Linked DNA regions of Homo sapiens. The protein of the gene in region 2 interacts with the protein of the main gene of each other region in a biochemical or structural test. Each region holds a gene or a part of one and is shown on either strand. Other genes may lie near its edges. The genes, in order: OR8G1, DLG4, GJC1, CACYBP, EVI5, CRB2 and ACOT6.

Region 1 (4,555 bases), on a different chromosome or scaffold from region 2:
TATCTACATAGCAAGGAATTTTCTCATTACCAGCACAGGTAAAATTATGTTCTGCTCTAGGCATAGAGAATTAAGGGTAGTTTAGACCATGCTATTCAGGTTCCAACTCTATCACCAGATTTGCTATGTTTACCCATCAGGCATCAAACATATTTTTTAACCTTCCTGTGCCACATGTTTGAAAAGAAAGAAAAAATAAGTATTGCTTTAGGGACTCCTTGGTTGTTGAGAGGGTTTAATGACTTAAAAAATCAGGTGTTAACAAGTTATCATATCTGCATTGGGATTTTTCACAGAACAAATACACATACATCTTAGCATAGAATAGGTCAGAATGTTACCAGTTATATTATAGATTCTTGAAGAACCTTCTAAAGTAAATTTTAATCAACTTGAAATATAAATTAAATTAGATTAGATTTAAAAACATATGTAGCTCTTCGAGAGATAAATAGATAAAGTAAGTATGACATACATATGGCTTTCCTATACTTAGCTTAAATGAGGAAATAATAAAAAAGCTTTCAAGGACCTAAGGTGGCAAGAACTATGATAGACGCTGGAGACGTGGCAATAAACCACATGTACGGGGGAATCTTCATGAAGACTGAAGTCCAGTGTAGGTTGAAGGCAAGTACAAACTAGAATAGGAAAATGCAAAGCAGATGATATATTGGATTGCACAATTATAACACATACACGGATATGTAACTTATATTCTGAAATTTTGATTATGTTGCTAAAGAAGAAATACAGCAGACAAATGAGGTAAATAGATGAATAAGGCAGAAAAGAGATTGCTGCAGGCTAAAATTACAGCTATCATATTGCAATAATTTATGTTGTTATTGAAAAGACAGAATAAGGGAGATTGGTATCACTTTTGGAAGATGGTATTTTCATTATGGTTGAGAACTGAGCTGAATTTTATCAATTGTGTAAAAGAAAAGAGGTAAGAACATGGGGCTGGCATTAATGAGTCTATGTACTCATGTCGATTTTAGTATTTATATTAATTTGTGTCTCATTGATACATATGAGTTAAAACCCCACATGGGAAATGACATCAAAGGGTCATGAAATGAAAAAATAATGGTAATATAATCTCACCAAATGGTAAAAATTATTGACAGATGCATTAAAGTGAAAGACATCCATTCATACAATGTAACAGTCCACTACTTAGGATTAATATATCATCTTCTTATTATTACTGTTTACAATAATGTTCTTCTCTGTAGCATTTTCTTCAGGGAAACATGGACATCTTTATTCCTCAGGCTATAAATCAGAGGGTTCAACATGGGCACAATAATAGTATAAAACACAGAGGATACTTTCCCCTGGTCCATGGAGCTGATTGAAGATGGCTGCAAGTACATGAATGCTGCAGATCCAAAAAAGATTACAACCGCCAACATGTGGGAGCTACAAGTGCTGAAGGCTTTGGACCTGCCCTCAGTGGAGCGAATGTGGAGGATGCTGGCAATAATAAAGATGTAAGAGCAAAGGATGGTCAGGCTGGGGACAAGGATGTTAAATGCACCAACACATAGAATAAGTAGTTTGTTGACATAGATACTAGAGCAAGAGAGCTTTAGGAGGGGAAGAAGATCACAGAAATAATGGTTAATCAAATCAAATTTGCAGAATTGAACCCTAAACATACAGCCTGTATGAACTGATGCACAAACCAGGCCTATTATATACACCCCTAAAATCAGAGAAAAGCAAGCCTTATTGGATATGATGACACTGTACAGCAAGGGGCTACAGATGGCCATGTAACGGTCATACGCCATTGCAGCCAACATGTGACACTCTGCAATAGCAAAAACGAGGAAGAAGTAGAGCTGAGTCATGCATTCAGGGTAGGAGATGATGTTCTTCTCTGTCACAAAGTTCACCAGCATCTTAGGGGTAATGACAGTGGAATGGCAGAAGTCAATGAAGGACAGACTGCTGAGGAAATAGTACATAGGGGTGTGCAGGTGAGAACTGAGCCAAATCAGTGTGGTCATGCCCAGGTTGCCCACCACTGTGACCACATAGATTCCTAAGAACAGGAGGAAGAGGGGCAGCTGGAGCTCTGGCTGTTCTGAGAGCCCAGCCAGAATGAACTCAGTCACTGAGGAATTATTTTCTCCTGACATCTCCTCCAGTCAGTTTCTGCAGGAAGAGAAAAAACAAAACAAAAAAACCCCATGGTTGTGGGAGGGACTTTATTATTCTTCATTGAGAAAAGGTTCCCAGATATTCATGCTTTAGGTATCCCCTTTGAGTAAGTAAAGTTTACCTCAAATAATATTTATTTAATCTTATTTTCAAATATAATAAATGTGTTTCATGTAAAATATTTTAGCCATTTTTATCATTGAACACTTTCTAAGTATCCCTTTCTTCTTTTAAATATTTCAGTGATTTTAAGCCAATATTTCTAAGTTTAGACTCACTAACTTAAATATTAATATAAGCCAATATAAATGAGTTGAACTCATGACAACTTGGAGAGAACAAACCTTGCCTAAGGATGGTAAACTTTAATTACCTGAAACTAATTTCTGGGAGGGGTGAACAGAGATATTACTGTCAGATTTTTCCATTTTTAATGTAATTATCAAGAAATCTCGATTTATACATAAAATTTTCATATTTTAAAATATTATTACTATGAAACAATCTCTATAACAATAATTGTATAAATTTAACACGAGCTGGACTGGCCCACAGTTATCTGGTTTATGGTCTCTGGACCAAGCACTTCTGCCATTATTTGAGGGAAGCTGTGTTAGTAGTGGTTAAATGGACAGGCCTTAAACTCAAAGTGCCTATGTTTGCTTTCTGACTCTATCATTTACTAATGATACCCGTGGATAAGTTAAATAACCCGTTTGTGTCTTGACTCCAAATCTGTGAAAGATAAATAAAAATATTACCTACCTATTAATAAAATTGGCAGACTTATTAATCAGAAAGTAAGCAAGATCATCATTGTATTTGTTACCTATTCATATCCTGTCAATTGGAAAATAAGCCATTTTACTCATTCAAATTACAGAAACAGATAAAAATACCTCCATTTTTTTTCTCTTCTTTTAACTTTTGTGAATTAGGAAGAAGTACAAAAAACAGGCATACATTTAGAATATATGGAATTTAAAATATAGTTATTTATTCTGTTAAACTATGATCAGGCAAATTACTCATTGCATGTGCCAAAGTAAAATTCCAAATGGCTTAGAGTTAAATTACAAAGAATATTATATATGGAAAACCTAAAAATGTATATCTTACTTCTATAAAAAAACTAAAATACAGATATAAACAGAAAGGCTAAACTATAAAATATCTGGAAGAAAATGCTAGAGAAATTCTTTGAGATTTTAAAATTTAAGCTTTCTTAGAAAGGATACACACACACACACAGACACACATAAACAAAACCCAAAGCAAACAAACAAAAAACCATACAAATACTTAATTTGTATGTCATCAAAATTAAAAGCTGTTCTTCAAAAGATAGTATTAAGAAAATGAGAAGGCAATTCTATGGAAATACATATATCTGAAAAAGGGCTTTTATTCAAAATATAGAAATAATATTTACAATTAATATGAAGGCAAGAAAATTTTAAAAACAGGAAAATATCCGAACAAATTCCTTACAAAAATATGTATGAATAGTCCTTAAGTATATGAAAATATGCTCAATGTCAGTCATCAAAGAAATGAAAGTTAAAACCATAGTGATACAGCTCTGCACACCTGTATTGGAATGGGTTAAATGAAACAACTCCAACAATACCAAATGTTGGTGTGAAGTAACTGGACTTATAAAATTTGGGGGAGGTGTAAAATTGTCCAACCACTTTGGAAAAGATGTTGGCAATTTAGTATAAATTTAAACAGACACTGTGCAATATAATAATTCTGCTCCTCAGTACTTACCCAAGAAAAATGTAAACGTTTGTCTACATGAAGATTTATACAAAAATGTTCATGACAGCCTTATTCATAAGAGCCCCAAACTGGAAAAAACCAAAACATTATCAACAGATGAATACATAAATGAGATGTAGTATACACCTATACTACAATTCTCTCTCCCTCTCTCTCTTCCTCTCTCTGTCTTATATGCACACACACATAAAATATTACTCTATATTTTAAAAGGAACATATCACAAATACATGCAATAACACAAATCTCAAAAACATATTTTTTGGAATAGATTGCCCCAAAATACCTTAAATGTTTGGAAGTATTCACCAGTATAGCAATCTAGACTTACGGTTTTCTCTCTGTGAGAATTTTTAGTAATGGATTGAATTTATTTAATAGATATTACTATTCAGATCTTATCTTTCTTCTCAACTTTCCTAAATTTAAATTTGAAAATGCTTGCCCACTTTGCAAATGATCAAATATATTGTATTCTTCTTCTTTTTTGGTAATTGTTTCTTTAACATCTAAACATAATTGTAGACTATGCAGCGATTTCTTTTTTCTGATTCCTAAAATCAGTAATTTATGGTTCCATTTTTGTCTCGATCAA
Region 2 (4,525 bases):
CTCTGTCTCAAAAAAAAAAAAAAAAGGGTGGGGGGGGCGCATAAAGAAACCTAGCGTATATTCACACAGCAGTTCTTATCAGCAGAACTCTGTAAAGATCATTTCCAGGCCAGGCGCGGTGGCTCACGCCTGTAATCCCAGCACTTTGGGAGGCTGAGGCGGGTGGATAACAAGGTCAGGAGTTCAAGACCAGCCTGACCAACATGGTGAAACCCCATCTCTACTAAAAATACAAAATTAGCCAGGCATGGTGGCAGTAATCTGTAATCCCAGCTACTCAGGGGGCTGAGGCAGGAGAATCACTTGAACCAGGGTGGCAGAGATCACAGTGAGCCGAGATCGAGCCACTGCACTCCAGCCTGTGCGACAGAGCAAGACTCTGTCTCAAAAAAAAAAACAAAAAAACAAAAAAAATCATTTCCAGATCCTAGCTCTGTCCACAACTCCATGAACATGAATGAACGAAGTTTCCTCTCTATTTTCCTTTAAGGACTGTTGTGCTTCCCAACAGGACTGAGACAGCCCGGCAGGGATCAGAGCTGGACTAAGTCTGCAGGGCCCCAGACAAGTTCCAGCCTCCCCTTTCTGGCCTGTCATGACTTTGGACAGAGCTCCAGACCTTCCCAGGCTCAGTCTTCACCAACTCGGGTTCCTTGATTTGCCAGTTACCTCCCTGGCCCATTTTCCAGGCCACTAACCTCTCTGGCTTGGAGTGAAGAAGGATCTGACTCTGCTGCGCCCATCTCCCTCCACACCCAGGTCCCAAATAACCAGGCCACACACCAAGTTTCAAGTATCTGTCTCTTCCTTTCACTCTCTCAAAAGAAAAAAATAAATAAATTGCAGAAGGCGGCAGCATTTCCAGTCTTCCCTGGCTCCCGGACACCCGACCCCCGACCCCTGCCCCCCACCCTCCCTCCCGCATTTCCCACTCCCTAGACCCATCCCTCCCTTTTCCCCAAAAAAATTCCCAGGAAAAAAAAAAAAAAAAGCCACATTTAGACCTTCCACTCATGCAAACCGGCAAAGAAAAATGGTGGGGGCATGTGGAAGGCAGGGGCCCGCTGCGGAGTCCCCTGCTTCTCCCCCCAAAAAACCACCTTTGAGAAGAAAAAAAGTGGAAAAAATAAATGAGAAATCAAGGAACATGGGGAATTACGATGAGGGCAGGGGTGACCCCAGACCCTGCCTTAGGAGAGAGCGGAGGCCTGTGGCCCTGCATCCCTGCAGCGGGTGCTCCTCGAGGGGGCCCTGACTTCTGGAATGTGTGTGGGAGAGGATGGGGGAGGGCAGGTGGCCCCCGGTGGGTCTGTGTGTGCATTGGGGGCAGGTGGGGGCGGGGATCCTAAGGAGCAAGGGCTCGGAACAAGGAGCCCAGCTCCCCCCCAGACCCCAGGTTCCTGGCGTTCAGGAGCCCAGTTCTGGGGTGCGGGGATACATGCAGAGGAGTGTCCCCCCTCCAACAGGCTGGATCCAGTTAGAAAGGAAATAAATAAGAAGGGGTGGGAGGGAGGCCGGGGGGAGCCAAGGGCTTGGGCAATTCAGTCCAGACCAAGGGCCCAGGTGATGGAGGCAGGGCGAGTCCAGGCCAAGCCAGGGCAGGAATCAGAGTCTCTCTCGGGCTGGAACCCAGATGTAGGGGCCTGAGAGGTCCTCGATGACACGCTTCACCTTGTGGTAGATCTCCTCAAAGCTGTCACCCTCCACGATGGCTGGGAGTGGGGTGGAGCAGGGAGTGAGGCCAAGGAAGGGCCAGAGGACACCTGGCCAAGGGGGTTGCACCAGCCCAGAGGAAGGGGCACCTCTTTCCAACTCTCCAAGCCATAAGTCCTGGGGCTGCACCCGCCCACAGGGGCACCTCTTTTTTTTTTTTTTTTTTTTTTTTGAGATTGAGTTTTGCTCTTAGCGCCAGGCTGGAGTGCAGTGGTGCGATCTCGGCTCACTGCAACCTCTGCCTCCCAGGTTCAAGCGATTCTCCTGCCTCGGCCTACCGAGTAGCTGGGATTACAGGTGCCCGCCAGTGCTGGGATTACAGGCGTGAGCCACCATGCCGCGCCCACAGGGGCACCTCTTTCTAAGCCATCCACTGGGGGTGGCGGGGGAGCTCTTTCTAATCCGAGCAAGGGCACCCTACATGCTGGCAACAGCCTTGCTGTGGCCTCACCTGAGAAGCACTCTGTGAACTCCTGCTCCAGCTTGGTGGCTCTGTCGAAGGCTTTGCGGGCTTGCTCCTCTGTGATCCGCTTGTTAATCTCTCTGTGAAGAGGGAGGGAGAGCAGGCCTGAGACTGGACCCACCTGACCCTGCCTTTTATCTCCTCTATCCAGGAATGTTAAGTATTCTTCTATTTGGAGCACATAGCAAAAAAAAAAATACAATTCCCAATATCCTCTGGGGCCACAGATGAGAACCACCCCCCACCCCCCTGCCACCCGCAACCGCCCCAGCCAGGTGTGGCTACTCCAGGGACATCTACGGAGCTTCATCCTTCCAGCCTTCAGCCCCAGAGATGGGATTCGGACTCCAATTCCCAACAGCCCTAGAGGCCCTGACTCGCCCCAGCTGGTATGCCCCAGGGGCTGCTGGGAAATGTAGTCCTGTCTAGCCAAGGCAGGAGAGGAGGGGAAAGACCCGATTCCCCCACATCCTCTGGGTTCCAGGGATCCCCCTCAGGGGCTGCTGAAACCGCTGTCCAGGGTTCTGAAGGGAGAGTTGAACGCAGACGCCTTGTGAGGCCCAGGGCCACAGGTGTTGGGGGAGCAAAGGGGAGGCCCCCAGGACCATACTCACAGCACATTCTCCAGGGAGCGGGGGCGGATGAAGATGGCGATGGGGTGCAGGTGGGCCGCCTGCAGCCGCCGCACGGCATTGGCCGAGACATCGAGGATGCAGTGCTTCCCCTGGGGGCAGGCAGGGTGGGCGGAGGGGGGCCAGCGGGTGGCGAGAAAGGACAGAGAGCAGTGCCGGAGGGACACGGACGGGGAGAGGTGGGGAATGGGAAGTTGGCCGAAGGGGAGTGACATGGATGTCAAGAAACACGGGGGCAGAGAGTCAGGCAGGAAGCGGGTATGGACAGAGTAAAAGACAGAGGGAAAGGAAAGGGAAGATGGAGAGCACGGGAGAGGGCAGGGACAGGACAGAATGGAGGAAGGGAGGAGCACCAGGCAGGCAGGGACCCAAGAGATGGTGGCAGAGCCGGGGCAGCAGCGAGTGGGGCGGGGTGTGCAAGGCAGAGGTGACACAGGCGGGAAGGAAAGCCAAGAAAAAGGAGAAAGGAAGTAGGATAGAGGGAGGAGGGAGGGGAGGACGGACAGAGGACAGACAGATGGAAGGAACAAGGAGACAGATGGGAGGGAGTGAGGCAGATGGAGAAAGGAACCGTGGAGGGAGGGAGGGAGGGCAGGGTGAGGAGCAGCGGGGAAAGGAAAGGAGTTAGCAGAGGAGTGGGAGAGGGGAGCCGGGCCCCAGAAAAGGGTGAGGCAGGGGAGAGGGCCAGCGGGGAGTCAGGAAAAAGGGAGGGACCCAGTGGGGAAGGCCAAGCCACCAAAGACAAGGCCATGGGAAGAGAGGAGAAATGGGGCAAGGAGAAGGGAGTGGGGAGAGAAAGAGGCCAGATGGTGGTGGGGAATTTGGGGTCAGGAAGTGAGGGAGGTGGGAGAGAGAGCAGGGGCAGAGAGCAGGCAGTCAGACAGAGTTGCCCAAGAGGAGAAGGAGGTGGAGGAGCGGAGTGGAGACCCAGCAGGGAAAGAGACAGAGAGAGAGAGAGTTAGAGAAAGCTGGAGGGAGGCAGTGGGGTGGGGAGAGGGGAGAAGGAAGAGGACCGGGTGCCCGCCAGGTCCTACCTGCTCTGCCACCTCTCGCACGGACTGGACGCTGGTCCCATAGAGGTGGCTGTTGTACTGGCCGGCCTCAATGAACTTGTGCGCCTGAATGTCCTTCTCCATTTTCTCCCGGGACGACACAAAGTGGTAATCCCGGCCATCTATCTCATACTCCCGCTTGGGCCGTGTCGTATCTGCCAGGAAGTCACCCCACCCCCCAAAGATCTAACCACCATCCCTCTAGCTTAAATCCTGCCTACTTCAATCAAATCCCCATAGTGCCCAGCTGGTCCTTTGGTGAAAGGGAGCTGCCAGGGAGACCAAGACTGCAGAGGGCCAGAACCGCTTCCCCTAGCACCCTCCAGGGCCTCCAAGTCTCTGGCCTGGGCATGGGTACTATGGAATGAGAGGGTGGCTGAGAAGCACCCCTTCTCGGAGAAACCCTGTATCTCCCTACACACCGATCCCCCAGGAGGCTCTGCCTATGGCCCCAGGGATGGGCCTCCCCTGCCCCACCCCCACTTCCACCTTCTCCTCCATCCAAGGCCCCAGCACTCACGGGGAACACAGGATCCAAACTTGTCGGGGAACTCGGAGAGAAGATCATCGTTGGCGCGGTCCTTGGTGGGCCCAAGGATGATGATGGGGCGAGCATAGTGCACTGCAGAGAGAGCCTGGCTTAGGCCGAGCGCAGGGTTGGGGGA
Region 3 (4,555 bases), about 38 Mb from region 2:
TGGGTGTACAAATCATTCAATTCTTTTTTTTGAGGCAGAATCTTGCCTCGTCACCCAGGCTGTAGTGCAGTGGCATGATCTCGGCTCAATGCAACCTCTGCCTCCCAGGTTCAAGTGATTCTCCTGCCTCAGCCTCCCAAGTAGCCAGGATTACAGGCGTGTGCCACCACACCTGGCTAATCATTCAGTTCTTTTGTTTTAATATCCAGAAGTGGAATTGCTCTATCATATGGTAATTTTTAATTGGTTGAGGAACATTATCTTGTTTTCCACAGTGGCTAATTTTTTTACATTTTTAGTAGAAACAGGGTTTCACTTTGTTGGCCAGGCTGGTCTCAAACTCCTGACCTCAGGTTATCCGTCTGCCTCAGCCTCCCAAAGTGCTGGGATTACAGGCGTGAGCCACGGCTCCTGGGCGAAAAGTGATTCTTAACCTTGAATTTTGTGAAACTAAGCAAGCAATGGACTAGAAGGCAAGAGATTCTAATCCCAGAATATAATCCATGCACTTCAGGAATAAGTTCTTTCCATATCCTAATTTCTGAAATAAATGAAGAATATCAAGTTAGATGATTTCTAAAATCTCTTCCATTTAACATTTGATGAAAACTATCTCAGAGTAAAATTCACCAAACTGACAAATTATGTGGAACTCAAAAGTCTAGGGATAGGAGAAAAGTAAAGTAATAGCAGTAAAATTAAACAATATAACAAGATGTCAAAATTTTAAAAAGGCACTTCCCAAACGATCATTTCAGAAAATTTGCGGTTGGACTAAATTTAAAAATTTCAATATTGACTCACTGTAATTCCAAAGTAGGTATTAACAATCTAGGCATCCCAGCTCATGAGCTGAGCAATCCACTAAGAATCGTGCTAGTGACTCATACCCCTGAACGCGACTGCTTTATGTGCAGAGACCAGGAATCAATTAAAGGGTTTACAATGAAGTGTTGTTTAACTGGAACGTTTTAAGTGGAAGTTAATTCCACATGAGTGATAATAGATGTTTAATAACTAGCTCGTGACAATTTCTAAGCAAAAGCATTACAGCAGCTAAGTAGCACATAGTAATCTATGTGCTACAAACATGAAAACAACTTGTTTTCAAAAGAGCTCTTGGCTATGAATATTTGAAAAACCTAAAATATAATTTGTGGCGAATCAAATTATAAAATCTCATGGAGAGTGAGTAGTTTGAGATCTTGGCTGTATCAACCAATGAGGAAACAAAAAGCACCATTGTGGGTTGAAGTGCCAATTTTCGCTGGCAAAAAGCCATTCTATTTGAATGTAAGAACCTTCAGGAACCAGCTGGAGAAGTATGAGGAACCTGGGATAGGGATAATATATTCATTCACAACATATCCTAAGTGGAACTGTCTTCATGCAAACAGGACAATATTGGAACATTTGTCCAAAACAGCCTAAGATTAGGTCAAACCAACTGTTCTGAACAATGCTCAGTCTAGAAAAACGAACATGTCTAAGACAAAAATAAATGTATGATTTTCCAATATGACTACGTTTATGATACAAAATTTCTTTAAAAAAACCCAACCCATACCATCGGCTGGGTGCGGTGGCTCATGCCTGTAATCCCAGCACTTTGGGAGGCTGAGGCAGGCGGATCACCTGAGGTCAGGAGTTCGAGACCAGCCTGACCAATATTGGCGAAATCCTGTCTCTACTAAAAATACAAAATTAGCGGGCGTGGTGGCACACGCCTGTAATCTCAGCTACTTGGGAGGCTGATGCAGGAGAATCACTTGAACTTGGGAGGTGGAGGCTGCAGTGAGCCAAGATCGCGCCATTGCACTCCAGCCTGGGCAACAAGAGGGAAACTCCGTCTCAAAAAAAAAAAAAAAAAAAAAAAAAAAACAACAAAAAAACACCAACACCCATACCATCATACACCAATGGTGTCATCTGGTACAACTTTTCTGGAAGGCATCTTGGCAACAGTTATCAAGAACTTTAAAGTGCTTATATCCTTTGATCAATAATTCCACATTTAGTAATTTACCCTAAACAAATACAGGGCATTTATTATAAGAAACACATATAATTAGGTTGGGTGCGGTGGCTAACACCTGTAATCCTAGCACTTTGGGAGGCCGAGGCAGGTGGATCACAAGGTCAGGAGATCAAGACCATCCTGGCTAACACTGTGAAATCCTGTCTCTGCTAAAAATACAAAAAATTAGCCGGGCATGGTGGCGGGCGCCTGTAGTCCCAGCTACTTGGGAGGCTGAGGCAGGAGAATGGTGTGAACCTGGGAGGCGGAGCTTGCAGTGAGCCAAGATCGTGCCACTGCACTCCAGCCTGGGAGACAGATCGAGACTCCGTCTCAAAAAAAAAAAAAAAAAAAAAAAAAAGAAACATATATAATTTATGGTATAACCTCCATAATGGAATATTGTACAACCATTATGGGGGGAATAAGGAGGGAGTAACTGCTAACGGGTATCAGGTTTCTTTTTGACGGAATAAAAACAATCTAAAATATTCTAAAATTAGGGTGTGTTGGCTCATGCCTATAATCCCAGCACTTTGGGAGGCCGAGGCGGGTGGATCACCTGAGGTCAGGAGTTCGAGACCAACCTGGCCAACATGGTGAAACCCTATCTCTACTAAAAATATAAAAAATTAGCTGGGCGTGGTGGCAGGCGCCTGTAATCTCAGCTACTCGGGAGGCTGAGGCAGGAGAATCGCCTGAAACCGGGAGGCAGAGGTTGCAGTGAACCAAGATCATGCCATTGCACTCCCGCCTGAGCAACAAGAGCGAAACTCCATCTCAAAAAAAAAAAAAAAAAAAAAGAGTCCAGCCTCAGTAAATTGTGTGATAGAGCCACTTAATAAAATAGAGTACACTGAAGAAAGTCTAGGTGTGGGGCCAAGATGAAGAGCTCACTTTGGACAACACAATTCAAATTACCTCCTCTGAGTATCTCTGTGGAGATGTTGAACAGGCAGCCAGGATAAAAAAAGAGGTCTGGCTACAGATAAAAATGTGGCAGTATTCAAAATATATATGGTAACCGAAGCCACAGAATGGATAATTTCAGGAAGGAAAATTTTGAATCCAAATAAACATCTACTCTGGATGGGCAATTAGGAATTCCAAGTCCAAGAATGACTCAAGGGGAATTCCTAAAATAGAGTCCAGCTCTAATTTGAACGTTCCCAAAAGGAATGTTATAACTCATTAGTTAAGTAATAATAAATTAAGCCAAAACTGATAAATACTACAAACATGTGAATGAAAATAATCTCTATAACTATTGGGAGTTGAATATAGTTTAGAGATTAGAGGATAAGAATAGGGGTGTGTGAAGTTTATCCGATTTATATAGAGGAAAAACATCAAAACTTACTCTGAAACCCTATGCATTTCTTTCCTGTTTTTTTTTTTTTTTTTTTTTTAAGACGGAGTGTTGCTCTGTCACCAGGCTTCAGTGCAGTGGTGTGATCTCAGCTCACTGCAAACTCCGCCTCCCGGGTTCAAGTGATTCTCCTGTCTCAGTCTCGCAAGTAGCTGGGACTACAGGTGTGTGCCACCAGGCCCAGCTAATTTTTGTATTTTTAGTAGAGACGGGGTTTCACCATGTTGGCCAGGATGGTCTTGATCTCTTGACCTCATGATCCCCCCGCCTCGGCCTCCCAAAGTGCTGAGATTACAGGCGTGAGCCACCGTACCTAGCCTCTTTCCTCCTTTTTTTTAAAATTTCTTATTTTTGTAGAGACAGGGTCTCATCATATTGCCCAGGTTGGTCTTGAACTCCTGGACTCAAGCAATCCTCCTGCCATGACCTCCAGAAGAGCTGTGATTACTGGTGTGAGGCACCATGCCTGGCCTTTCTTTCCTTTCCTTTTTTTTTTTTTGAGATGGAGTCTTGTTCTGTCGCCTAGCCTGGAGTGCAGTGGCACAATCTTAGCTCACTGCAACCTCTGCCTCCCAGGTTCAAGCGATTCTCCTGCCGCAGCCTCCTAAGTAGCTGGGACTACTGGCGTGTGCCACCACACCTGGCTAATTTTTTGTATTTTTAGTAGAGACGGGGTTTCACGGTGTTAGCCAGGATGGTCTCGATCTCCTGATCTCATGACCTGCCCACCTCGGCCTCCCAAAGTGATGGGATTACAAGGCGTGAGTCACTGTGCCTGGCCCTCTTTTCGTTTTTTGAGATGGAGTCTTGCTCTGTTGCCAGGCTGGAGTGCAGCGGCACAATCTCAGCTCACTGCAACCTCCACCTCCCGGGTTCAAGCGATTCCCCTGCCTCAGCCTCCAGAGTAGTTGGGATTACAGGCGCGCGCCACCATGCCCGGCTAATTTTTTGTATTTTAGTAGAGATAGGGTTTCACCATGTTGGCCAGGATGGTCTCGAACTCCTGACCTTGTGACCTGCCTGCCTCGGCCTACCAAAGTGCTGGGATTACAGGTGTGAGCCACCGCACCCGGCCTCTTTTTTCAAATAGAGACTGTCCCACTCTGTTGACCAGGGTGGAGTGCATGGTGTGATCACAACTCACTGTAGCCTTCAACTTCTGGGCTCAA
Region 4 (4,555 bases), on a different chromosome or scaffold from region 2:
GACCAGGGTACTAATAAAACCATCTTTGCAGGAGTGTTTAATAAGCATATTTTATTTAAATAAATCCTCCAGTAGGAAATGGAGAATTCATTGCCTTTACTTAGAAGGCTATGTAAATAGCTATCTGTCAAATTTATATATGCAGCTCACCAATATTCCCTTACTGGAAACATCAGTATTTCCACATCACATCACAGTTCCCAAAACGACTTTAAAGTCTCAAAATTCCGTGTCTCCTTTGGCTTGCTTCTCTCTTGATTCCACCCAGGCTTTATTAATGGTTCGCTTCATATCATCGTCTCCATCTTCATAAATTTTCTTTAGAACATTCATCAATCCCTCACTAGGATCTGTTTCAGTGTCATAGGAGGGCTTCCTTTAAAAAGAAAACATATACAACAATGGGGAAACGAAAGCACCGGAAGATACTATCATTCAGGTTGTTAACACTGGCAGGAAGTAGAGGGATAAGAAGGAAGACAGAGTACCCAAAGATATTTACAATCAAAACGGCACGCACAAATTCATCTTAATGAAAACAACACACACGTATCAAGCATGCACACACTTGGTGCACGAAAGAGGTCATCAAAATAGTTAGGGGCTATTTTTAGGCACAGGGATTTCCCATGATTTTTTTTTTTTTTTTTTTTTTGAGACAGTCCTGCTCTGTTGCCCAGGCTGGAGTGCAGTGGCGCATCTCGGTTCACTGCAACCTCCGCCTCCCAGGTTCAAACAATTCTGTCTGCCTCAGCCTCCCGAGTAGCTGGGATTACAGGCACATGCCACCATGCCCGGCTAATTTTTGTATTTTTAGTAGAGACAGAGTTTCACCATGTTGGCCAGGCTGGTCTCAAACTCCTGACCTCAGGTGATCCGCCCGCCTCAGCCTCCCAAAGTGCTAGGATTACAGGCGTGAGCCACCCCACCTGGCCTCCTGTGATTTTTGACAGGTAAAATAAGAATTTGATTTTCTAACTTGTTTTCATTTTTTAAAAGCATGTTTCCTCATAATTTGAAAAAAAACACTTGAGGGAAAATCATAAACATTACACATGGATGTACCCTGAAGCTCATGTATTTTTTAATTAGAAAAACTCTCCTCTTAAGCCTGAGATACACAGATCTGGGCCTGGGTCTTGAATTAATTTAGTCAGTACCTTTAGAAGATGAACTGACCTAGAACGCAAGTATCATTGAATACACATTTTTAAAAGGTCATTATTAAGAAGGATAAAAATATTTTATCTTTTTCACTATAAACCAGTGACAATGAAAACTACGCATCAGAAGCATCTGAGAAATTTAAAACATACAGGGGTACCTAAGCCCCTCTCAAACTACCGAAACAGAGTATCTGGGAATGGGCACAGTTATTTGTATAGAAGCACAACTGCGCCTAGGGTTAAGAACCACACTAAAGAGCCAACCCTTAACTACAAAGACCTTAAAAAGCAACTTGCTGGACGTGCCCTCTTCAGGTAGTTTGACAGTTGAAAGCAGAAATACATTATCCATAAAGACAAACTATTAAAAATCCATGATCTCAAACAATACACTAAAATTCTTTAAAAAAATGGAAGTAGACTCACTCTTTTTCTTTGCACTCCTTTTCAACCTGGGTCAGGTAATCCCACCTTGTGTTTTCCACTTTCTTTCTACACAATATAAGAACTGTATCAGTCTTGACCTGGAAGAAAAGCAGGAAAACAAATACAGCTTAGAAGACATGGAGATAAGCATGAATATTTATAAAACAATTATCTATTCAATTGATCAAGTCCCTAGTATGTATAGACTTATTTTGGGTGCCAGTAATACTTGTATGAATAGGCCAAAATCTGAACATTCATGGTGTGAAAAGACCATAAATAAGTAAAACTTGAATACCCTGATATCCTGGAAAGTGCTATCAAGACAAAGCGGGTGTTAATGGGGGGTGGGGGCAGGAACTTCATTAGGAAGGCCTCTCTGAGGCAAATCTGAGCCGAAGCCTAAGGTCAGGAGAAGGCAGTTGGCAGAGCATGCAGAATGGCTCCAAGATGGGATCATCTTGGTGTGTTTGAGGAGCAGGAGGAGTGGCTGGATTTTAGTGACTGAAAAAGACAGTAATATAATAAGAGGGGTCGGGGATAGGCAAGAAACCAAGTCGTATAAGGCAGTATGGGGCAAGGTGAGGCATTTGAAAGTGAGAAAGAAGGGCAATGTACAGGTCTTTTAAACAATGATCAATACTAGGGATCTTTTGGTACTCTACCTATGGGACTAGCGGATGCAGAAGGGTGCAGTAAGACAGCGAATCCAACTATATTTGAGTATCACCTGTAAGCTGTTAAGTAATTATGTATTATAAAAACAGATGGCAGAATGTCATGTCTATATACCTAACGCATTAAACTTCATTTATTCACATTAGGCAGAAAACAGGGACTATCTGATTTAGTAAAAATTACAAAGAGTAGTTTTTAAAAGACAGTTTCCTTATTTTTATAGCTGCTTCTAACTCCAAGGAGGCTAAGTGCTTAAGACCTCCTTTTATGTATACGAGTATTATGCACAATGCTAACACTAGCATTAATTTAAGCACTTTACATAATGGTATTGCACTTCAGTGTATCATTTCAACTTTGTGAAATAAATTATTACTATCGCATAAATGCAGAAACTGAGGCACAGAGTGATTAAGCTGCCAAAGGTCACAAACAATAAGCTGTAAACCTGGCATAAAACTCAAGTCTCACTCTTAACTACCTTCAAACGTTTACTTCCTCCCTGATTTTAATGGAATATTCTTACAATAGCCTATTCTACAAAAGGAGTTGGCAAATGTTCTCTGTCGAGGGCCGCATAGTAAATATTTTAGGTTTCATTTAGGGCCATATGGTCTGCTGTAGCCACTTAACTCTGCCATTGTAGCACAAAAGCATCCACAAACAACACATGAACAAATAAGCCTGGCTATGTCCCAATAAAACATTCACAAAACAGGCGGTGGTCCCTGTTACAGAGGACAAATTCATTCCAGTTCATCTCAGTTCTAAATCAGCCAGGTTCAATTTGGTAAGGTTTCACAATATTACAATCAAAAAAAGCACACTCACTTTTTTTGAACTGCCTTCCACAGAGATGGGTTTCAAGAGATTGTTCACAATCATGGAGTAACTCTTCCCATTTAGATTCTTTACCAAAAGATCAAATGACCTGCAACACAATGGTGAATACATCATCTTTCTAGTTCTATGAAAGGTACCCTTACTCCATAGTTCTTGTGGGAAAAAAGCTGCTGGCTTTATTTCAGGGTGTGCATTTGGCCAGTTAACGCTCACCTCTTCAAAGTAGTTGTAAAGGATAATTAATTCTAAATTTAAGAATTTTAAAAACTGCAAAGAAGAGAGTCTCAAGATAAGGCAATGTTGACTGTTAATTCACTGTCTTTCCCATTATAATGAGAACTCACCTCTCTGTGAAATGCACCTGCACATTCTCAGTGGGAACTTGATGAACTCCAGTTAAGGTAATGTAGATTTTCACAAACTTATCTGACTGATCCCATCCTGGCAACGACAACAAAAGATGGGACGTAAGTAAGCCTCTGAAACTATCTTTAGAACAGCAAATGCACATGGCTCATAAGTCAGGAAAGTAAAATTATGAAAATCCAGTCATATAAACATGAAAAAATTTGAAATATAAGAAATTTTCTAGGTTGAGAAATGGAGCCTCAAAGCAGTTAAGTACTCTACCCAAAGCTAGGCATCTAACAAGTGGTAGAATTCAGATTCAAATCCAGGTTTCTGAATACAAAACCTATGCTCTTTTTATCCCTCAGAATAAAAATATGATCACTAAATACATTCTTTAAGATTAGTTCATTTACAGCTTTTATGGAAACAATTTTGTCCGACATCTAAATATTGGTAGTTCTCCACTAAGCTGGATGGCTAAGTATCAATACTAATTCCATAACCATTTCTACTTCTGTAAGTAGTCAAACAAATGGAATCCTAGCTCTCTTAATTCCTTTCCAGGGCAAAGTAGAATGTAAAAGACTCCAATTCTTCATCCAAATCTGACAAACCTACTGGTATCTGTTAAATGCCATTTCAGTATGTATTATCAAACTACCAGCACGTCTCTGACCTAGAAGAACTCTGTCAACATAAAAGACATATATATAAATACTTCACAAAATACCATCACATTTGTAGAAAATAAAAAACTTCACAAAAAAGCATCTTCTGTTTATCAAGAATATATACATACATATCCCTGACTATTGCTCACTTAGTCCTATAGAATAGAAACATGCCCCATCCTCCATGACGTTTTTCACATTGCATGCCTATATCAAACATCTCATGTACCCCATAAATATATACACCTACTATGTACCCTCGAAAATTAAAAAGAAACAGTGTTGATGAAAAAATGCCCTAGTGGGGTCCAGAGAACTTCATTTATTAATAGTTTCTTCCCATTCAGTCAGTCCATCCTCCGGATTGACAAGTTTCTCCCTCAACACAAATCTATGTTCCTGGTTAAAATACCATAATCC
Region 5 (4,555 bases), on a different chromosome or scaffold from region 2:
AATGCTGAACAGTTAGAATCCCAGATTTCTTCCAAGCTGCTGAGTGGCCCCACCCTCAATGTGGCAGGTGACAGATTTCTCTTCTCAAGAGGGTAAACCATACAAGGTGGAAGACATAGGCATCCTAACAGAGACAGATTGTGTGAGCCCAATATACTAAATGTTCTTTGGCTCCTTACCCAACCCTCTTTTCCTGAGTTCCCAGATACTGACAACCAGACCTCAACTCTCCAAGCAGAAAACTGGAAGATACTCTCTGGAAAATATGACTGGGACAAAAGGAAAGATAAATACAGTGGAGACAGCCTCAAACAATCCACCCAGATCAATTATTTCAATCTTGGCTACACACTGGAATTATCTTGGCAGCTTTAAAAAATACTGGTGCTAATCTTCGGAGATAGAAATCAGAATAGTGGTCACCTCTAGGCTGGGAGTGAGACAACAGAAGAAAGGGATATGAAGGAATTTTCTAGAATTTTTTGCCATGCTCTACATCTTATATCGGTTACATGGTAAAAATCAAACTATACACTTAAATTCTGTGCATTTTACTGTATGTAGCCACACCTAATTTTTTTAACTATCCCTACCTGGGACCTAGTCTCAGAGATTCTGACGTATTAGCAGCAGGGATTTTTTTTTTTAATTCTCCATGTGATTATAATGTGCAGCCGAAGCTGAGAATCACTGCTTTAGACTCTAGAATATAGGGTAAAACAACATGTCCTTAAGTCCTACTTACAAGTTCAGGACTTCCCATCAGCTTTCAGTAGCCCACTGTTAATCATGAACAGACAACCAAGGATTACCAGTCTTCCGAGGAGGGCCTCTACTAATAAGACTATACCAAATAGGAAAAAAAGTAACTTGGAAGAAACTATGCAAGGAAAAGAAGGTCTAGGCCAGGTGCAGTGCCTCACAGCTGTAGTCCTAGCACTTTGGGAGGCCAAGGTGGACGGATCACCTGAGGTAAGGAGTTCAAGACCAGCCTGGCCAACATGGTGAAAACCCGGCTCTACTAAAAATACAAAAATTAGCTGGGCATGATGGCAGATGCCTGTAATACCAGCTACTTGGAGGGCCGAGACGGGGAATCGCTTGTACCCGGAAGATGGTGGCTGCAGTGAGCCGAGATCACGCCACTGCACTCTAGCCTGGGTGGCTGAGACTCCGTCTCAAAAAAAAAAAAAGAAAGGCTTAAGAAAACGATTTTTAACATTCTCAGAGAGATAAGAACAGATATGGCACCCATGAAACAAGAAGAGATGGAGAAATAAGTGACTGAGTAGAGGAGGCTGAACCTACTGGCCTGCAAAAGGGAATACAATCAAGAAACAAGCTGAGGAGTCTCTCTGAGCCTATTCTGGCTCAGAAGAAGGCTGCCAGATAAAGTGATATAAAAATTTTTTTAATTTAAAAAATAAAAAGAAGCAAGCTGATTTGGCTAACTCACAGAATCACAGAAAGGCTCAGAATCTAGGAGCCTAGGAGTTCCCAGGTATAGGGTCAGTGGAGAGGCATGGGGCTAAAGAGAAAGTAAATGGTTTAAAGTTTATGTAAGGTACAGTTGGACTCTAGTCTAGGTTCCCTCCTCTGCCACCATTCCTATCTCATAAATTTATTTTCTAGAAACTCTGACCTGGTGATACGATTTGGCTCTGTGTCCCCACCCAAATCTCACCTTAAATTGTTAATAATCCCCACATGTCAAGGGCAGGACCAGGTGGAGATAAATGAATCAAAGGGGCAATTTCCCCCACCCTGTTATTGTGATAGTGAGTGAGTTCTCACGAGATCTGATGGTTTTACAGGGGGCTTCACCCTTTGCTGGGCATTCATTCGCTCTCCTGTTCCCCTGTGAAGAGGTGCTTTCCACCATGGTTGTAAGTTTCCTGATGCCTCCCCAGCCATATGGCACTGTAAGTCAATTACACCTCTTTTCTTTATAAATTACCCCGTCTTGGGTATTCTTCATAGCAGCATGAGAACAGACTAATACACCTGTGAGACTCCAGACTCAAGAAAAGTAAAGTAAGGCTCAAGGCTGAAAGCCAAGGGGTTAAACAGAAGTGTGTTTGATGAAAAGCAGCCCCTGCCCACAGCCCACTTTCTTTGCCCACCTCTCAAAGTTGGAGAGCTTATATTACCACATATCAAAGCTTATTATAAAGTTACATTAATACAGTGATATTAGTGCAAGGATGACAAATATACAAATAGAACAAAGTATCCAGAAACAGACCCACACTAATTTCATAAATTAGCTGACCATACTGTTATCTAATTTATGAAAAAAAGTGCCACACAGTGCAGATGGACAAGGATGGTATTTGCAATAAATGGTGCTGGATCAAACAGACGTCTATATAGAAAAAAGTGAATCTTGGCCCGGTGCAGTGGGTCATGCCTAAATCCCAGCACTTTGGGAGGTCAAAGCAGGTGGAGATCATGTTACTGCACTCCAGCCTGGGTGATACAGTGAGACCTTGTCTCAAAGAAAAAAAAAAGTAAATTTTTTTTTTTTTTTTTGAGACCGAGTCTCACTCTGTCGCCCAGGCTAGAGTGCAATGGCACAATCTCGGCTCACTGCAACCTCTGCCTCCTAGGTTCAAGCGATTCTCCTGCCTCAGCCTCCTGAGTAGCTGGGATTACAGGCACCCGCCACCACGCCCAGCTAATTTTTGTATTTTTAGTAGAGACAGGGTTTCGCCATGTTGGCTAGGCTGGTCTCAAACTCCTGACCTCATGATCCGCTCGCCTCGGCCTCCCAAAGTGCTGGGATTTCAGGCATGAGCCACCACGCCCGGCCTAAAAAGTGAATCTTGACCCCTGCGATTCATCAAGAATTTACTCTAAATTATATACCTTAAATGCAAAAAGTAGGGGATGGGTACAGTGGCTCACACCTGTAATCCCAGCACTTTGGGAAGCCGAAGAGGGCAGATTGCTTGAGCCCAAGAGTTTGAGACCAGCCTGGGTAATATGTTGAAACCCTGACTCTACAAAACATACAAAAATTAGCCAGGCATGGTGGCATATGCCTGTAGTCGTAGTCACAGCTACTCAGGAGGCTGAGGTGGGAGGAATGCTTGAGCACAGGAGGCGGAGGTTGCAGTGTTCTGAGACTGCACCACTGCACTTCAGACCCTGTCTGAAAAAAAAAAAAATTTTTTTTGCAAAAAGTAAAATAAAATTGCTATAAGACAACACAGAAAAATATGTTCATATTCTCAGGTTAGGCATTGATTTCTTAAATAGGACACAAAAAGCAGTAACCATAAAGGACAAGATTGATAAAGTATACTTCATTAAAATTAAGAATCTCAGGCTGGGTGCAGTGGTTCATGCCTGTAATCACAACACTTTGGGAGGCTGAGGCTGGTGTAGGTGTATGACTTGAGCCCAGGAGTTCGAGACCAGCCTATGCAACATGGCAAAACCCCATTTCCACTAAAGATACAAAAATTAGCTGGGCATGGTGGTGCTCATCTGTAGTTCCAGCTACTTGGGGGTTAAGGCAGGAGGAATACCTGAGTCTTGGGAGATCAAGATTGCAGTGAGCCGTGATCGTGCCACTGCACTCCAACCTGGGCAACAGAGTGAGATTCTGTCTCAAAAAAAAAAAAAAAAAAAAAAAAGGCCAGGCACGGTGGCTCACACCTGTAATCCCAGCACTTTAGGAGGCCGAGGTGGATGGATCATGAGGTCAAGAAATCAAGACCACCCTGGCCAACATGGTGAAGCCCTGTCTCTACTAAAAATACAAAAATTAGCCGGGCATGGTGGCACACACCTATAGTCCCAGCTACTCAGTAGGCTGAGGCAGGAGAATTGCTTGAACCCGGGAGGCGAGGGTGCAGTGAGCCGAGATCGCGCCACTGCACTCTAGCCTGGCAACAGAGTGAGACTCCATCTTACAAAACAAACAAACAAAAAACACACACACACACAAATTAAGAATCTCCAGGCATGAAAAAAAACACCATTAAAAGACTGAAAAGGCAAAATACAGACTGAAAAAAATAAAAATGCAATACATATATATCCTAGAAAGGACTCATATCCAGAATAAAGCATTATAAATGAGAGAAAAATAAGCATATCAACGAAAACTGGGCAAAAAGACTTAACAGGCACTTCACAAGAGGAAATATAAATGGTCAACAAAAGATACTCAACCTCAGTACCAGGAAAATGCAAAATGAAACCACACTGATATATTACTGTACCTCTACTAGACTAGCAAAAAAAATTTCAACTGACAAGCACCAGCAAGGATGTGGGGTAACCGGAACATTCCCTGCTAATTGGTAGAACCACTTTGGGAAAATGTTCAACAATTTCTAATACTAGAGTTTTATCACCCACGTACCTATAAAACCAACAATGCCACTCCTACGTACATACTCCAATCTAGTAATGTCCTATTTCTTGATCTTTGGTGGTTCACTTAGTAAAAATTCATTACCTGCGATGTTTTTTGTTTTTGTTTTTTTTGAAAGACGGTCTCACTCTGCCGCTCAGGCTGGAGTGCAGTGGCATGATCAAGGCT
Region 6 (4,555 bases), on a different chromosome or scaffold from region 2:
TGACCCTCTGTTAGAGCCCCGGTGCTGGAAGCATCATGGTGGCCAGGGGCAGGTGTCCGTGAGCCATCTCAATACCTGCTCTGTACCATGCGACCTTGGCCAGGCCGGCCACTCAGGTGTTTGCTGATGGGGGATGAAATTAGGGCCAGGGACCCTCTAGAAGTTCCTAGGCCAGTGGCTGGCAGGGGGTGGGTAGTGATGTGGAGAAGGGGTAGGAATGAGACCAGCGGAGCACACGATCCCTGCTTTTGAAGTTGTCCACCCATCCTCCAGAGGTTGAGGTCGGGCCCATCTCCAGTTTCACCCAGGGATGGAGTTACCAGACCCCTGGCAGAAGAGGTGGAGGGGGCAGTGGGAGGAGCCTCACCCTCTGGGGCCTCCTTGGATGGATGGGGCCTGCAGGAGGGAGACCCCTCCCCAGGTGGAGCTGAAATAATCCAGATAGACCTTGAAGCCTGTCCCAGCGAACACTAACTTGCTGTGTGAAGTGGACAGGGCTGGGCAGGCTCAGCAAGCCTTCACTTTCTTTCCTGGGCCTCCTTTTGCTGTCTGGTGCAATGGGCATGACGGATACTGCCTCAAAGGGGGACTGCAGGGACAAGACAGTGGAGGGAAGCTCACGGGGCTCAGGGAACCTCTGCTCACTAATCCTGCCCAGAAGCCAGACATCCTTGGTGCTGTTTCTCTGCTATATAGGCTCTCCTAAAACCGTTCCCAGTTCTGGGTGCAGATGTGTGCAGCTTACTGGGACCTGGCTTGCAGACCCCTGGCCCTCTGTCCATACTGTGCATGCAGAGACCCACGTTGCTTTTGGGGTCTGGGGTGGGCCTGAGAGGGTGGGGAGGAGATTGTCCTTGTAACCTCTGCCCACCCTGCCCAGCCAGTTTCTTCTTTCTACAGGGACGGTGCCTTCAGAGCCCCCCAGTGCCTGTGCCTCAGACCCGTGCGCTCCAGGGACCGAGTGCCAGGCTACCGAGAGTGGTGGCTATACCTGTGGGCCCATGGAGCCCCGGGGCTGTGCCACCCAGCCATGCCACCACGGCGCTCTGTGTGTGCCCCAGGGTCCAGATCCCACCGGCTTCCGCTGCTACTGCGTGCCGGGTTTCCAGGGCCCACGCTGCGAGCTGGACATCGATGAGTGTGCATCCCGGCCGTGCCACCATGGGGCCACCTGCCGCAACCTGGCCGATCGCTACGAGTGCCATTGCCCCCTTGGCTATGCAGGTAACAGCCTGGGCCGCCCTGGGAGGAGGTCTGTAATGCAGATCGCATCAGCTGCTCAGAGTGTAAGCATCATGGCTTCAGCTTTGCCTTTCGTGTAGGGACGCCCCCAGGCATCCGGGCAGCTCTAGGGTATATCCACTTGGTCTGACTACAGAACTGATGCCTGGCAGCTCTGGGTGAGAGTATGTATGTGCGGGTGCTGGCGTGGTGTGTGGCGCATCTCAGGCACTCGGTAAATGTGATTTCAGTCCAGCCTAGAGTTCAGTTTGGCTGCGGGGGTGGAATACCCCTCATTCATCTCTGGCAGTGTGAACCTGCCTGGCGTGACTTTAGTGAGGATGCCCAGATAGTCTTTCTAGCACTTCAGGCCTGTGCCAAGCTGTCATGTAGACACTGTCTACACGACAGTCACCATCAGCTCATTTGAACACTCCTGATGTGGTCTGGAGTGCAATGTGGACCCCTGGCCTCTGGGTCTCCCCCAGAGTTCTAGCATAGACATACAAGGTCTCGTTCAAACTGTAGTGTTGACATACCCCAGGGATCGCTGCTGTCTGGAGTGGGATAATATATACGTAAGTGCTCAGAAAAGTGACTGGCACTAAGGGTACCTTCTCCAGAGTGTGGCCCGTCCCAGGCCCACCCATGGTCTGAGCCGAGAACATCCTGGAGCGGCTTCCCAGAGAGGCCTGAAGTCGGGAAGGAGGGCGCAGCTGGGGACAGAAGGGGCGCAGTCTGGGAGCGAAGCTGAGTCCAGGGCAGAGTCTGAGTCTGCAGTGTAGATGCTCTGGATCCTACTTCAATCCTGAATTCAGACAACTGTACTCTGAGGGCAGAGGGCAGTTTGAAGTCACTTCAGAGCAAGAGGTACAGATTGGGGGGCTGGGTTCCAGGGCAGGGGGCCTACAGCGAAGAGATGGCAGCTGATGAAGAGAGATTTGGGAAGCTGGTTCCATGCATCTTTCTCATCGTTCCAGTGTCTCAGCGTCTGGGTGTATTAGTGTACATGCCAGTGCAGGTCACATTCGTCCATGTGTCTCCTAGTTCCAAGTTCTGTTTTGCATCTGTAAAGATCTGCCAGTACCTGGGGGTGTCTGCAGTCTGAGTGCATGTGTGGGCAGTGGGTTGTTCGGGCAGTGGGTTGTGTGGGCAGTGGGTTGTGCGGGCAGTGGGTTGTGCGGGCAGTGGGTTGTGCATCCGGATGTGTAGCACTCACACACTTCGGGTGACTCTTCCTGGGTAAGCTGTGGATGTGAGTGGGGGCAGCATCTGCCGTGACTCATTCTCTCCTCTTTCCATTCCAAGCCGGGTGGGGGAGTTTGGGATTTCCAGACAAGGCCTGGCTCCCCCTGGCACAGAGGGTGGGAGTGGGGATGGGGAGGGAGGAGGGAAGGGTCATGGGAAGGTGGGGCCATGTTTTGTGCTCAATGAACTGAGAAGGGGGAGGGTTCCAGCTGGAGTCAGCTGGGCCTCTGGCCCCCGCTTGACCAAACCCACTTAGGGGGCAGGGCCTGCTGGAGTCTACAGTGACACGTGAGTCCAGGATGATCTCAGGCAGCGTATCTGAAACCCTGGGACTCCCCATCTCCCTTCCTCTTCACCATCACCCTGGGAGAGCCACTCAGCTGTCGTGATTCGCCCAGGACTGCGAGGGTTCTGGGGACTTGGTACTTTCAGTTCTAAAACCAGGACAGTGCAGGGACACTGGGAGGAGTGATTACCCTACTCAAGCATCTCCTGCCTCTCTGGGATCTGAAAGCCACCAGAGTGGACCTTCTAAAAAGTAGGTAGGGCCAGGTGTGGTGGCTCACGCCTGTAATCCCAGCACTTCGGGAGGCTGAGGTGGGTGGATCACTTGAGGCCAGGAGTTGGAGACCAACCTGGCCAACATGGTGAAACGCCTTTTCTACAAAAAAATACAAAAATTAGCCGGGTGAGGTGGCATGCACCTGTAATCCCAGCTACTCTGCAATCTGAGGCACAAGAATCACTTGAACCCAGTGGGCAGAGATTGCAGTGGGCTAAGATTGCAGCACTGCACTCCAGCCTGGGCGACAGAGTGAGACTCTGTCTCAAAAAAATAAAAAACAAAAACAAACCCAAAACAACTAACTAAAATGTAGGTGGGACCAAGTCACTTACCTGTCTGAAACTTTCAGGATGGACCCAGAGGTTACCTGGTCCCCAAGGCACTGACACCTCCCACCCGACTCACCTCCGCCACCCTCTCCCTTGCTTCCAACCCTCCAATAACCCCGCCTAGGGCATCATGGCCCTGCCCCTAGTGGAACTTGCCTCTTGCTGCAGTCTCTTTGGAATCCAACTGCTGCCCACAGTCCCCTATCTGAATCCTTCAAAAGCCTCTTCTTCTAGGAAGCCTTCCCTGAACAGAGCAGACCCCGGCTATTGCTTTCCCAAGACCCAACCCCTTTCCTTGTTGAACTTGGCAACATCACCTAGCTCATTTAGGTAATTACTGGCTGAATCACCCCCCACCATGTCCTGGCCTAGACTGCTGTGAGCCCCATGAAGGCAGGGCTGTCTGTCTCGTTTCTCTCCCTGCGGTTGCTGGCATGACCCGTCCCCCACCCCCCAACCACCACCACCACCATCCGGCTCTGAATGAATGAATCCACGAGTCTCTAACTCTGGAGCAGGCCTGGCGCGACCTCTTCCGCCCTGCTCTGGGTGTCCATCCTGCACCCTGTGTGTCCCCTGCCCTGTCCAGGCGTGACCTGCGAGATGGAGGTGGACGAGTGCGCCTCAGCGCCCTGCCTGCACGGGGGCTCGTGCCTGGACGGCGTGGGCTCCTTCCGCTGTGTGTGCGCGCCAGGCTACGGGGGCACCCGTTGCCAGCTGGACCTCGACGAGTGCCAGAGCCAGCCGTGCGCACATGGGGGCACGTGCCACGACCTGGTCAACGGGTGAGCGAGCGGCGGGGCAGGCGGCAGGGGCGCCGGGTGCCCGAGGGCGGGGAGGCCAGGCGCGGGGCAGAAGGGGCAGGCGCGCGCTCAGCTCCGCCGGTGCGCCCTCCCCAGGTTCCGGTGCGACTGCGCGGGCACCGGCTACGAGGGCACGCACTGCGAGCGGGAGGTGCTGGAGTGCGCATCGGCGCCCTGCGAGCACAACGCGTCCTGCCTCGAGGGCCTCGGGAGCTTCCGCTGCCTCTGTTGGCCAGGTGTGTGCGTGCAGGTGCGCGGCCTGGCGGGGGGAGGGGTAGGTGTGCGCCTGTGCGGCCTGGGGCGGTGGGGCAGGTGTGTGGCTGCACGCGAGTGCCCGCTGGGTCCTCGGGACCAGAGTGTGTGTGTGATTGCAACCTGTCGGAGCCTCA
Region 7 (3,491 bases), on a different chromosome or scaffold from region 2:
TATTGTCCTGAAAATCTTGGCATCAAGGCATTCCTCCAGGCAGGCAATGACCATATAGTGACTGGGAATCCCCTGGCAAACGTAAAAGAAGTATATCCACAGGTATAATGCTCCTGGTCTTCAGACTGGCGTTCAGAGACAAGTGTTTTTTGAGACAGAGTTTTGCTCTTGTTGCCCAGGCTGGAGGGCAGTGGCGCGATCTCGGCTCACTGCAACCTCCACCTCCTGAGTTCAAGCAATTCTCCTGCCTCAGCCTCCCAAGTAGCTGGGATTACAGGTGCCCGCCACCTTGCCTGGCTAATTTTTTGTATTTTTAGTAGACACTAGGTTTCATCATTTCATCATGTTGGCCAGGCTGGTCTCAAACTCCTGACCTCAGGTGATCCACACGCCTTAGCCTCCCAAGTGCTGGGACTACAGGCGTGAGCCACCGTGCCCGGCCCAGGGAGAAGTCTTGAGTAAATGTTCAGCAATGTGTATGGGCAAGAATGAGGTAGAGCCAGGCGTGGTGGCTCAGGCCTGTAATCCCAGCACTTTGGGAGGCTGAGGTGGGTGGATCACCTGACATCAGGAGTTTGAGACTAGCCTGGCCAACATGGTGAAACCCTGTCTCTACTAAAAATACACAAATTAGCTGGGCATGGTGGCACGAGCCTGTAGTCCCAGATACTCGGAAGGCTGGGGCAGGAGAATCGCTTGAACCTGGGAGGCGGAGGTTGCAGTGAGCTGAGCTCGTACCATTGCACTTCAGCCTGGGCAACAAAAGCGAGACTCCGTCTCAAAAAAAAAAAGAATGAGGCAGAGTCCATTCCTTAAGGCAATCGAGTGGGCAGTTTCCCAAGACTCAGACGTGGTCAGTTAGGGCCAAAGGGGATATGAGACTCCAGAGCAATACCAAAGGTCAGTCCTCAGAAAGGGAACACGAGGCCAAAGCTGGGCCAGCAACTGAGTTGGGAAAGCACTTCTTACATTTCTCTTGCTTAAGGTGAAGACCGGTCCTACATATAAGATCAAGGTTAAGCCTACGTGGACCTAGCAGTGACGGAAGGCAGGTTGCAAAGGTTGAGAATCAGGGAGGACCTGACAAAAAAGCTGAGCTGGTTGCTTTGTCACTAAAAAGGTTGCTACGGGCTCTGGGAAACCCAACACAGGCTGGGTGTGGTTGCTCACACCTGTATTCCCAGCACTTTGGGAGGCTGAGTGAGGTAGGCATATCACCTGAGGCAGGAGTTCAAGACCAGCCTGGCCAACATGGCGAAACCTTGTCTCTACTAAAAATACAAAAATTAGCTGGGTGCCGTGGTGTGCACCTGTAATCCCAGATACTCGGGAGTCTGAGGTCGGAGAACAGCTTGGACCTGGGAGGCAGAGGTTACAGTGAGCCAAGATTATGCCACTGCACTCCAGCCTATGTGACAGAGTGATACAGGAAAAAAAAAAAAAAAGAGAAAAGAAAGAAAGAAAACCCAACACAAGTTGTATGAATAGGATTTTTATTAATGGTATCTGGTCTGTGGCTACAATGTTATATTTTGCTGTGCTTGACAGATTTTTTACCATTGAGATGTTTATGGAAGAAAGTTTGAATTTGCTGCCAGGCATCTACCTGTGCCTTTGAGTGAGCCTTTGGCTCACCTCCATAGAATATTGCCTCACCCAAAACAGCGTGCACAGAAGCTCTAGAAGGAGGAAAATAAGGTGGGTCAATACAGTGACCAGTTTCTGGGTAACAGATTATCTGGGGTCTTTCTTTCCCATGAGCTTGTAGCCTTTCAGAGGCTATCTGAGCATAGAATTCACTCTTCCAGCTTTGATCATCCATGCCAACAATAAACAAGAAGGGCACCTGCGCCTTTTCCAATGGAACAAGACTTTGGTGATTGTGTTCCTCCAGTGGATTGCTCCAAGTGTCCATAAAAGTGAGAAATCCTGACTTAGTGATTTTTACTTTTCCTAGATCATCGACAAGTTTAGGAATAATCATATCCTTGTAATGTAGAGGAGCTACTGTGTTGGCTACACAGGCATTGATAAGTACAGTGGCTGTGATGCCCTTCAAGAAAGAAGCCATTGAGAGACACAGGTCACCTCCTTTGGAAAATCCAAGAAGCGCAATACTAGGACCTTTCACCTGTTGAGGAAAAAGAGAAGGAAAACAAGCTTAGAATTCATAAATGGAGGACACAGACAGTGATTTTACATTCTCCAAGTAGCTTTCTCTTTTTTTTCTTTTTTGAGATGGAGTCTCGCTCTGTCACCCAGGCTGGAGTGCAGTGGTGCAATCTTGGCTCACTGTAACCTCCACCTCCCGGGTTCAAGCAATTCTCGTGCCTCAGCCTCCCGAGTAGCTGGGATTACAGGCGCCCACCACCACGCCCGGCTAATTTTTGTATTTTTAGTAGAGACAGGGTTTCACCATGTTGGCCAGCTGGTCTCAAACTTCTGACCTCAAGTGATCCGCCTGCCTTGGCCTCCCAAAGTGCTGGGATTATAGGCATGAGCCACCGTGCCCCGCCAGTAGCTTTCTTAACTATCATTTGCTTTCCTTCCGTATCCAACAATCTGCAAAGTTCAAATATGTCTTCTAATAAGCAAATCAACTGATTTCCTAGTAATGGGTCATCCCCTAATATTTATGAGGACTGGGTCAGGAGTATACACAGAGGCCCAGACACCCTATACCTAAATATTTCAAAATTATAAATCAAATGAACAAACTGTTAAATACAGTATATTATTTTCTCCTGCCTTGATAAATATACCACCATAACAATTCATAAGTTCAGGCTCAAATTTAAAATCTTGGAATCCACTGGAGTTCTGTACTGGAAAGTGACATAGGGGAGAGGTCAGCCCGTGGGCCCTGCACCACACTCCTTCTCTTCCATCACTGGCTCCTTCGTGGACCTTAAGGGGCCTCTCACACATATGTGTGGACACCCCAGCTTGCATGTTTAAGGCCTAGGTATATATACACCGACGAACCCAGAAAAGAGGCTTAGGGCCTGGAAGCAGGATCAGAGCTGTTTGGCAGAGAATTCTGGGGTGCCGGATCCCAAGAGCACTAGGGGTTGTGGGGGAGAGAACCCTGCAGAACATCTTATATCTTAACATTAGAATGTCTGGATCTCTTTAAACCTGGATGATAACAAAGAGTATATATAATTCCATTTTTAATTATACCAAAATTTGTTGTCGTTGTTGTTGTTGGGTTTTTTTTTGAGATGGGGTTTCATTCTTGTTGCCCAGTCTAGAGTGCAATGGTGTAATCTCGACTCACTGCAACCTCTGCCTCCTGAGTTCGAGCAATTCTCCTGCCTCAGCCTCCCGAGTAGCTGGGATTACAGGTGTGCACCACCATGCCCAGCTAATTTTTGTATCTTTAGTAGATGGGGTTTCACCATGTTGGCCAGGCTGGTCTCAAACTCCTGACCTCAGGTGATCTGCCCGCCTTGGCCTCCCAAAGTACTGGGATTACAGACGTGAGCCAC

The links.
Region 1: the proteins of DLG4 (region 2) and OR8G1 interact in a test that uses a peptide from one of them, tested with the Homo sapiens proteins (one large-scale study listed by IntAct).
Region 3: the proteins of DLG4 (region 2) and GJC1 interact in a test that uses a peptide from one of them, tested with the Homo sapiens proteins (one large-scale study listed by IntAct).
Region 4: the proteins of DLG4 (region 2) and CACYBP interact in a test that uses a peptide from one of them, tested with the Homo sapiens proteins (one large-scale study listed by IntAct).
Region 5: the proteins of DLG4 (region 2) and EVI5 interact in a test that uses a peptide from one of them, tested with the Homo sapiens proteins (one large-scale study listed by IntAct).
Region 6: the proteins of DLG4 (region 2) and CRB2 interact in a test that uses a peptide from one of them, tested with the Homo sapiens proteins (one large-scale study listed by IntAct).
Region 7: the proteins of DLG4 (region 2) and ACOT6 interact in a test that uses a peptide from one of them, tested with the Homo sapiens proteins (one large-scale study listed by IntAct).

What each region holds. Positions count from the first base shown.
Region 1 is NC_000011.10:124,247,274-124,251,828, reverse strand, and holds part of OR8G1 (olfactory receptor 8G1), read right to left. Parts: intron 4,029-4,555; 5' UTR 3,949-4,028; intron 2,170-3,948; 5' UTR 2,154-2,169; coding exon 1,218-2,153; 3' UTR 1-1,217. UniProt on the Homo sapiens protein: Odorant receptor.
Region 2 is NC_000017.11:7,189,103-7,193,627, forward strand, and holds part of DLG4 (disks large homolog 4), read right to left. Parts: intron 4,483-4,525; coding exon 4,381-4,482; intron 4,016-4,380; coding exon 3,843-4,015; intron 2,901-3,842; coding exon 2,791-2,900; intron 2,257-2,790; coding exon 2,165-2,256; intron 1,713-2,164; coding exon 1,606-1,712; 3' UTR 1-1,605. UniProt on the Homo sapiens protein: Postsynaptic scaffolding protein that plays a critical role in synaptogenesis and synaptic plasticity by providing a platform for the postsynaptic clustering of crucial synaptic proteins.
Region 3 is NC_000017.11:44,819,845-44,824,399, forward strand, and holds part of GJC1 (gap junction gamma-1 protein), read right to left. Parts: intron 1-4,555. UniProt on the Homo sapiens protein: One gap junction consists of a cluster of closely packed pairs of transmembrane channels, the connexons, through which materials of low MW diffuse from one cell to a neighboring cell.
Region 4 is NC_000001.11:175,005,744-175,010,298, reverse strand, and holds part of CACYBP (calcyclin-binding protein), read right to left. Parts: intron 3,555-4,555; coding exon 3,458-3,554; intron 3,202-3,457; coding exon 3,102-3,201; intron 1,691-3,101; coding exon 1,593-1,690; intron 377-1,592; coding exon 220-376; 3' UTR 1-219. UniProt on the Homo sapiens protein: May be involved in calcium-dependent ubiquitination and subsequent proteasomal degradation of target proteins. Probably serves as a molecular bridge in ubiquitin E3 complexes. Participates in the ubiquitin-mediated degradation of beta-catenin (CTNNB1).
Region 5 is NC_000001.11:92,778,338-92,782,892, forward strand, and holds part of EVI5 (ecotropic viral integration site 5 protein homolog), read right to left. Parts: intron 1-4,555. UniProt on the Homo sapiens protein: Functions as a regulator of cell cycle progression by stabilizing the FBXO5 protein and promoting cyclin-A accumulation during interphase. May play a role in cytokinesis.
Region 6 is NC_000009.12:123,361,965-123,366,519, forward strand, and holds part of CRB2 (protein crumbs homolog 2 precursor), read left to right. Parts: intron 1-900; coding exon 901-1,224; intron 1,225-3,952; coding exon 3,953-4,148; intron 4,149-4,262; coding exon 4,263-4,402; intron 4,403-4,555. UniProt on the Homo sapiens protein: Apical polarity protein that plays a central role during the epithelial-to-mesenchymal transition (EMT) at gastrulation, when newly specified mesodermal cells move inside the embryo.
Region 7 is NC_000014.9:73,617,874-73,621,364, reverse strand, and holds the end of ACOT6 (acyl-coenzyme A thioesterase 6), read right to left. Parts: intron 2,132-3,491; coding exon 1,526-2,131; 3' UTR 1,477-1,525; downstream 1-1,476. UniProt on the Homo sapiens protein: Catalyzes the hydrolysis of acyl-CoAs into free fatty acids and coenzyme A (CoASH), regulating their respective intracellular levels.